Linked DNA regions of Homo sapiens. The protein of the gene in region 1 purifies or fractionates together with the protein of each later gene. This does not show direct contact. Each region holds a gene or a part of one and is shown in the gene's direction. Other genes may lie near its edges.

Region 1 (3,820 bases):
TCCTCATTTTTCATAGCTGTATAGTATTCCATTGTATAAATATCCCACCATCAGTTTTACCAAACAATTGGTACTTTTCATTGCTGATTTAAAGTGTTATTATGGTGCTCACTTCAGCAGTACATACACTAAAATTGGAATGATACAGAGCAGATTAGCATGGCCCCTGCACAAGGATGACATGCAAATTTTTGAAGCATTCCATGAAAACATAAAAATAAAAACAAAATAAAATAAAATGTTATTATGGGGTACCTTCCCTAAGAACAGAATGACCTTCTTTGTAATAAATTATACCTCCACCACAAAAAGGGGGGTAAAGAAAAACTAGTATTTGGGGTATTCTAGTATCATTCTATGATATTAGAATGATTTATCTTTTTAATATCTTTATTTTTAATTTGTGTAGGTACTTAGTAGTTGTATATGTTTATGGGGTAAAATGGTTTGTTTTGTGCTAGGGAGAGGAATTAAAAAGCGACTAAAACATTTTATATTGAAGTTCATAAGAAATAATCCTTAATCTTCACTTCTCTCCATTTTTCCTCCTAAATCTAACTTATCTGGTTTTCTGAGAAGCTATAAGTTTAAAAGCTTAAAGCACTGTGTGAGTGCTGGGGAACCAATTACCCCTGACGTGACTGAAAAATGGAGAAACAAGACGGGCCTGGATATCTACGAAGGATATGGACAGACTGAAACGGTACCTGACCTCACTGAAAAGACATAGCTGGATTCCATTTAGTCAGATGAATAAAAACCAAAGTGTCCACAGTCTCCTTATGATTATTTGAGGGATAGGAGTTGAGTGGTTAGAAAATGTTTAAAAAAACAATGCTTGCAAGAACCTAATTGCAAAAAAGCTCTGTTAACAGATAGTTGTTTAAATAGCCATTCATTGACAAACACCACTGTTAATGGATCAGAGTAAGGGCATTACAATATTTTTTTAAATGAAATAATACTGGATCTACTGAAAGAAAGAATTCCTCCCAGTGTGATAGGGAAGTATCTTATTTAGGGCTGCCTCAAAATGGAAAATGCTGAGATCCTTGCTGCCTGAAATATTAAGAGTTTGCTGGACAACTCCTTAGCAACCATACTCTAAAAAGGATTTTTTAAAGAGCTCATAGAGATAAGGAATAAGAAATTCTAGAGGAAATGAATGAAATAAGAACAAAAAATGAAATAAGAACAAAAAATGAAATAAGAAAAAAGAACAACAGTGGTTATTTTGTAGAAGAGGGAGGAGTAAGATGAAATAGATAAGGGAAAAGTTGAAAAAACTTTTCACAATGTGTCTTTATAATGCTTCAATTTATGAACCATGAGAATGTATCACCTGGTAAAAAATGAAAATATCAAAAATAAAAATCAAAAATTGAAAAATTCATTAACTAGAAATAGCATAACAAGTATGCTAATATAAATGCAAATGTTAATATACTCATGTTTTGATAAATATGGATATATGAGTAATTATTGTTATAACTATATTTTATACATATGCATGTATTTATATGTTATCACTACATTCCATGAGAGTATAGCATTCATTTTGAGCCTAGTTCATAGTAAGTTTTCAATAAATAATTTGTTGAATGAATGCATGATAGATGAATAAATTTTAAGTGACTTGTAATGTTATCTTACTTTTTCTTCTTCTTAACTAGGTGCTAATCTGTGGAAATTTTAAGGGAATGAAAATTAAACCTGGCTCAATGGGAAAACCTTCTCCTGCTTTCGATGTTAAGGTTTGCACATCCCCTTCCAGGAGAATGTTTAACAACCCAATCTGTACACTACCTACCTACCGCTTACCCCCATATAAACTTTCTTTGTTATGATGGTGATTCCATTTTACTTCCATGATACTTTAATTTTTATAAATATGTGAAAATGATTAGAAATGTTAGCTTCTTGGTCTCCATTATTTTGCAAATACCCATATTGTACCATACAGTTCTAAGCATTTAATAAACGTTAACCCATTAGGCTGGATGCAGTGGCTCACGCCTGTAATCCCAACACTTTGGGAGGCCAAGGCGGGAGCATCACTTGAGCCCAGGAGTTCAAGACCAGCCTGGGCAACAACGTGAGACTTTGTCTCTACAAAAAAATATAAAAAACTAGCCAGGCATGGTGGTACGTGCCTGTGGTCCCAGCTACTCAGAAGGCTGAGATGGGAGGATTGCTTGAGCCTGGGAGCTTGGGGCTGCAGTGAGCCATGATCACACCACTGCACTCTAACCTGGGCCACAGAGCAAGACCCTGTCTCTAAATAAATAAATATTAACCCATTGAATTTCCAGAAGAAACCCTATGAGAAGCATACTAATATTAGAACCATTTTACAAACAAGGCACAAAGAGGTAAAAGAACTCACCAGAAGTCACACAGCTAATAGCTGCTAGAGTTGGGATTCAATCCCAAGCAGTCTGGCTCCAATATCTGCACTCTTAACCACAACACAACACTGGTCCTCTCAGGCAAGGGAGGTCAAGACCTTCTGAGCGGGTCAACTAGGCCCGAAGAGGCTTCAGTTTACAGTGGCTGCAGCACTTTCCCTCTCTGCTCCCAAGCCTGCCTGGCCATTTCCAGCCTCTCTGTATCCACTGCCACTACTACCACCTGATGCCTAGGGGGAATTCCAGTTCCCCATCAGCAAGCTTTATATAGGGTTAAAATTGTTCTCAGATCAACCGAGCTTCAAAGCTGGGTGTAGCCAAAGGAACTTAACACTAATTTGGACACTCCTCAACTTATGATAGGGTTATGTCCCAAAATAATAAGTCATCATAAGTTGAAAACATCCTAAGTCACAAATGCATGGCTGACTGGGAGCTGTGACTTACTGTTGCTGCCCAGCATCTAGAGAGAAAGATGGTTTCAACTGAATGGTTATCTTTTTCACCCATTGTAAAGTTGGGAAATAGTAAGTTCGAACCATTTTAATTCAGAGACCCATCTGTACGTTAAGAGACAGCAAAAGCAGCAAAAATATGGATGAATTAACAGAGTACAGCTCTTAGATAAATGTTTCCCAAGCTTGTTTGATCATAAACATCATATGGATATCTGTTAAAAATACTAATTCTCAGGCCCCTGGAGAGACCAATTCAATAGATTTGGAGTGGAACTCTGAAATTTGAAATCTTGTGATTTTAACAAGCACCCCCCAAGTAGTTTTTAGGATCAAATAAGTTTGAGAGAGTTTAGATGAGCTTGATTGCTGCTGTAACTCTTTATAGAATAAACCAGATCCTGGGTCCTTTCTCTCACTTTAACCTTGCTGTGGAAACCTGGTCTCAAGATAGGATAGCCTAGTGGTTCAACTATATCTCTGCTATTCACTGTCTGAGTGTCTGTGGGTACACTGTTAAAGCTCTGTAAGTTCCAGTTTCCTAATTTGTAAAGTTGGGACTAGAGTGACCAACCTGTCTGTTTGCCTGGGACTTATCTGGTTTTAGCACTTAAGGCAATACATCCTGAAGAACCACCCCCCGACAACCCCTCACCACTTCAGTCTCAGATGGTTGGTAAACCAAATAATAACAGAACTGATTTCATAGGTTTCTTGTGGTGATTAAAGGAGACAATATGTTTAAAGAGCATATCAGAATGCTTAGTACATAATAAAGGTCCAAAAGATGGGTACTGTTATTTACTTCTCCCTCACATTCCTCTTTTTATTTATTTATTTATTTTTTTATTTTTTCACATTCCTCTTTGAAAAGCTTATCTAAGAAAAAATGGTAGGAGAGCCCAAACAGGCTTAACAATAGTTTGTTGGTTAACAGGCTACCTTAGGTTGAAGAAA
Region 2 (3,820 bases), on another chromosome or scaffold:
GAGAGGTCCTCCTGTGGGATGTAAATTGCAAGCTTTGCATACTTGGGTATTCTCCTTCAATGAAAAGAAAACTTAGACATAAGGTATTTCACTCCATTTGCCTTCCCTCTTACAGAAAAGGTCAGGCTGCAGGATAGTACTGTAGTTTATACTTCCCTCAGGTGGCCATTTTTCCCCATCAGAGAGAGAAATTGGGGCCAGGCTGTAGTATAGAAAAAAATGAGCCACCTCTTTTTCAGGGTTTGTGGGTCAAATTGGTCCCAGTGGCTTAGGATGCATTTCAAGGGTGAGCCTGTTGATGCCTGAGTGTTTCCCATCTGAAAGACAAAACCGCCTGTGGTTTTGGTTTGTTTGTTTCTCCCCCTGCCCAAGAACCTGCAACGGTCCCTGGACCCTGCTGATCGGAATAGTTGTGCTCACCAATGCAGCAGCAGAAACACCTCTTGCCCAAGAACCTGCAACAGTCCCCGGACCCTGCTGATTGGAGTAGTTGTGCTCACCAACGCAGCAGCAGAAACAACCCCTGCCCAAGAACCCGCAACAGTCCCTGGACCCTGCTGATCAGAATGGTTGTGCTCACTGACACAGCAGCAGAAACACTAGTTCTCCTAGACCACAAGGAGGAATGAGGAAGGTCAGATTTCGTGGCCCTTACCAACACATTCTCGAAAACCTGCGCCCTTTCCTGTCCTCCTAGACCTCAAAGAGGACTGAGAAAAATCAGATTTAGTGGCCCTTACTGATGCATTCTTGGAAAACTGTTGGAGTCCTAAGCATTCTCCTGTTAGTATTGGGACCTTACCCATGTCCTATAAAGATGTTATGCCCCCAAAATGAAGTGGAGGGCCATACCCTGAGGGAGGGAAGGGATCTCCAGAGTTGGAAGAGTGAAGCCTTTTATCCCCAGTTATATGAATAGGAAGGATACAATTTCTGAGGCTCCCGATATCCTAGTTTCAGGAATAGCTTTTGTTAGGCCTGCTTTTCTGAGGAGGGATTCTAAAATTCCAGATAATCCCCCCTACGATGGGGCTTTGAGCAAAAACTGTGTCTTTCTGATTGGTGAGCCCGGGTGTCTAAAGAAGGTAACAGAGTCCTGAAGTTTATCCTAGAAATCATTCTTACAGGAGAAACTAGAAAAGCACCAGAGATGGAGTGGTTTTTAGAAGTGGGACTAGCCTCAAAGAAAGGCGAGAGGAAGTTTGTCTGACAGGCATTAGGACCCAGGAGGCAAGGGTCAGGATAGATAGGATAGATGGGTGAGTCTCGCCTGTGCGACGTGACTTTCAGAGTTCCATTCATGGCTGCAGGGTCAACCAACTTGTTGTCGGGACCCCGGAGCTGAATGGCTTTCCTCGCTGTCGACCCTCGGCTCAGCCCAGAAGTACAGGAAAAGCAGAAGCTGGTTCCAGGCAAACCAACGCTCCCCACTCCGAAGAGTCGGGGGTTGTTAGCCCTTTCCCAGAAAGCCTGACACCCGTGTCTTTAGTTCAGCAGCCACACTAGTCGCTTTTAACTGGCCAACATGTCCCCATATTTAGCTCTCAAATTCTAAGGAAAAATAGGACAGAATAGCAAGCGAAAGGGGTCCAAAGGCACTCACCGCTTAGTGATAGGTAATAGTCCCTTCGTGGTCACCAAAATGTGTCCAGAATTGGTTCCTTCTGGTGGGTTCTTGGTTTCGCTGACTTCAAGAATGAAGCTGCAGACCCTTGCGGTGAGTGTTACAGTTCTTAAAGATGGTGTGTCTGGAGTTTGTTCCTTCAGATATTCAGATGTGTCCGGAGTTTCTTTCGTTGGGTTCGTGGTCTCACTGACTTTAGGAGTGAAGCCACAGACCTTTGCAGTGAGTGTTACAGCTCTTAAAGGTGGCATGTCTGGAGTTGTTTGTTCCTCCTGGTGCGTTCCTGGTCTCGCTGGCTTGGAGTGAAGCTGCAGACCTTCGCGGTGAGTGTTACAGCTCATAAAGGTAGTGTAAACCCAAAGAGTGAGCAGCAGCAAGATTTATTGCGAAGAGCAAAAGAACAGAGCTTCCACAGCATGGAAAGGGACCCGAGCGGGTTGCTGCTGCTGGCTTGGGTGGCCAGCTTTTATTCCCTTATTTGGCCCTGCCCACATCCTGCTGATTGGTCCATTTTACAGAGCGCTGATTGGTCCATTTTACAGAGTGCTGAGTGGTCCATTTTACACAGTGCTGATTGGTCCGTTTTTACAGAGTGCTAATTGGTGTATTTACAAACCTTTAGCTAGACACAGAGTGCTGATTGGTGCGTTTTTACAGAGTACTGATTGGTGCGTTTACAAACCTTGAGCTAGACACAGAGTGCTGATTGGTGCATTTTTACAGAGTGCTGATTGGTGCATTTACAAACCTTTAGCTAGACAGAAAAGTTCTCCAAGTCCCCACTCGACCCAGGAAGTCCAGCTGGCTTCACCTCTCACTGGGCTGAAGTGATTCTCGTCTCAGCTTCCCGGGTAGCTGGGCCCACAGGCACCTGCAACCACGCTTGGCTAATTGTTTTATTTTTTGTAGAGACCGGATCTCACTATGTTGCTCAGGGAGGTCTTGAACTCCTGGCCTCAAGCGACCGTCCAGCTTCAGCCTCCCAAAGTCTTGGGGATTATTGGCATAAGCTACTGTGCCTGGCCAGTTTCAGTCTTTTAAAATTTATTGGCCAGTACAGTGACTGATACCTATAATCTCAGCATTTTGGGAGAAGAAGGCCAGAGGATCAATTGAGCTCAAGAACTCAAGACCTGCCTGGACTGTAACATACTAAGACCTCATATCTAGAAAAAATTTTAAAACTTAGCTGGGCATGGTGGTACATGCCTGTGGTTCCTGTTACTGAGGAAGCTGAGGTGAGAGGATCCCTTGAGCCTGGGAGGTTGAGGCTGCAGTGAGCTATGATCACACCACTGCACTTCAGCCTGGACAACAGAGTCAGGCCCTTTCTCAAAAAAAAAAAAAAATTATTGAGACTTGTTTTATGGCCATGAATATGTTCTATCTTGGTGAATGTTCCCTTTGCACCTAAGAAGAATATGTATTCTGCTATTTGTTGGTATTTTGGTAAAAATGTAAAATTAGGTTGAGTTGTTCATAGCATCTTGCAGGTTTTTTTTTTTTTTTTTTTTTTTTGAAACAGAGTCTTGCTCTGTCACCCAGGCTGGAATGCAGTGGTCTGATCTTGGCTCACTGAAACCTCTGCCTCCCAGGTTCAAGCGATTCTCCTTCCTCAGTCTCCCAAGCAGCTGGGATTACGGGCGCCTGCCACCATGCCTAGCTAATTTTTGTATTTTTAGTAGGGACGGGTTTCACTGGGTTGGTCAGGCCAACTCCTGACCTCAGGTGATCCACCTGTCTGGGCCTCCCAAAGTGCTGGGATTACAGGCGTGAGCCACTGTGCCTGGCCAGTCTTGCAAGTCTTCTATATCATTTCCTTGTTTCATCAGGTGCTGAGAGAGGAATGTGGAAATCTTCAACTAATAATTGTGGAGTTGTCTTTTTCACCTTTTAGTTCTATCAGATTTGGCTTCATGTATTTTGAAGCTCCCATGTAAGGTACTGACTGTATCTACATTTAGGACTTTTAAAAGTTCATGGATTAACTCTTTGATGATTATGAAATATCCTTCTTTATTCCTGGTTATAATCTTTATTCTGAAATCTGAAGTTTACTCTGTTTGATATTAATATAGCCCCTCTGACTTTCTTTTGATTCATGTTAGTATATTTTTCTATCCTTTTAAACTATCTGTGTCTTTATTATTTAAAGTGTGTTTCTGGCTGGGTGCAGTGGCTTACACCTATAATCCC

Evidence for each region.
Region 2: the proteins of ACSM3 (region 1) and NUDT19 purify together in Homo sapiens (affinity purification with mass spectrometry; one large-scale study listed by BioGRID and IntAct). This does not show direct contact.

Annotation. Positions count from the first base shown.
Region 1 is NC_000016.10:20,784,405-20,788,224, forward strand, and holds part of ACSM3 (acyl-coenzyme A synthetase ACSM3, mitochondrial), read left to right. Parts: intron 1-579; coding exon 580-703; intron 704-1,673; coding exon 1,674-1,754; coding exon of another isoform or gene 1,755-1,847; exon of another isoform or gene 1,848-1,910; intron 1,911-3,820. UniProt on the Homo sapiens protein: Catalyzes the activation of fatty acids by CoA to produce an acyl-CoA, the first step in fatty acid metabolism. Capable of activating medium-chain fatty acids with a preference for isobutyrate among fatty acids with 2-6 carbon atoms.
Region 2 is NC_000019.10:32,698,082-32,701,901, forward strand, and holds part of NUDT19 (acyl-coenzyme A diphosphatase NUDT19 precursor), read left to right. Parts: intron 1-1,603; exon of another isoform or gene 1,604-2,066; intron 2,067-3,820. UniProt on the Homo sapiens protein: Fatty acyl-coenzyme A (CoA) diphosphatase that hydrolyzes fatty acyl-CoA to yield acyl-4'-phosphopantetheine and adenosine 3',5'-bisphosphate.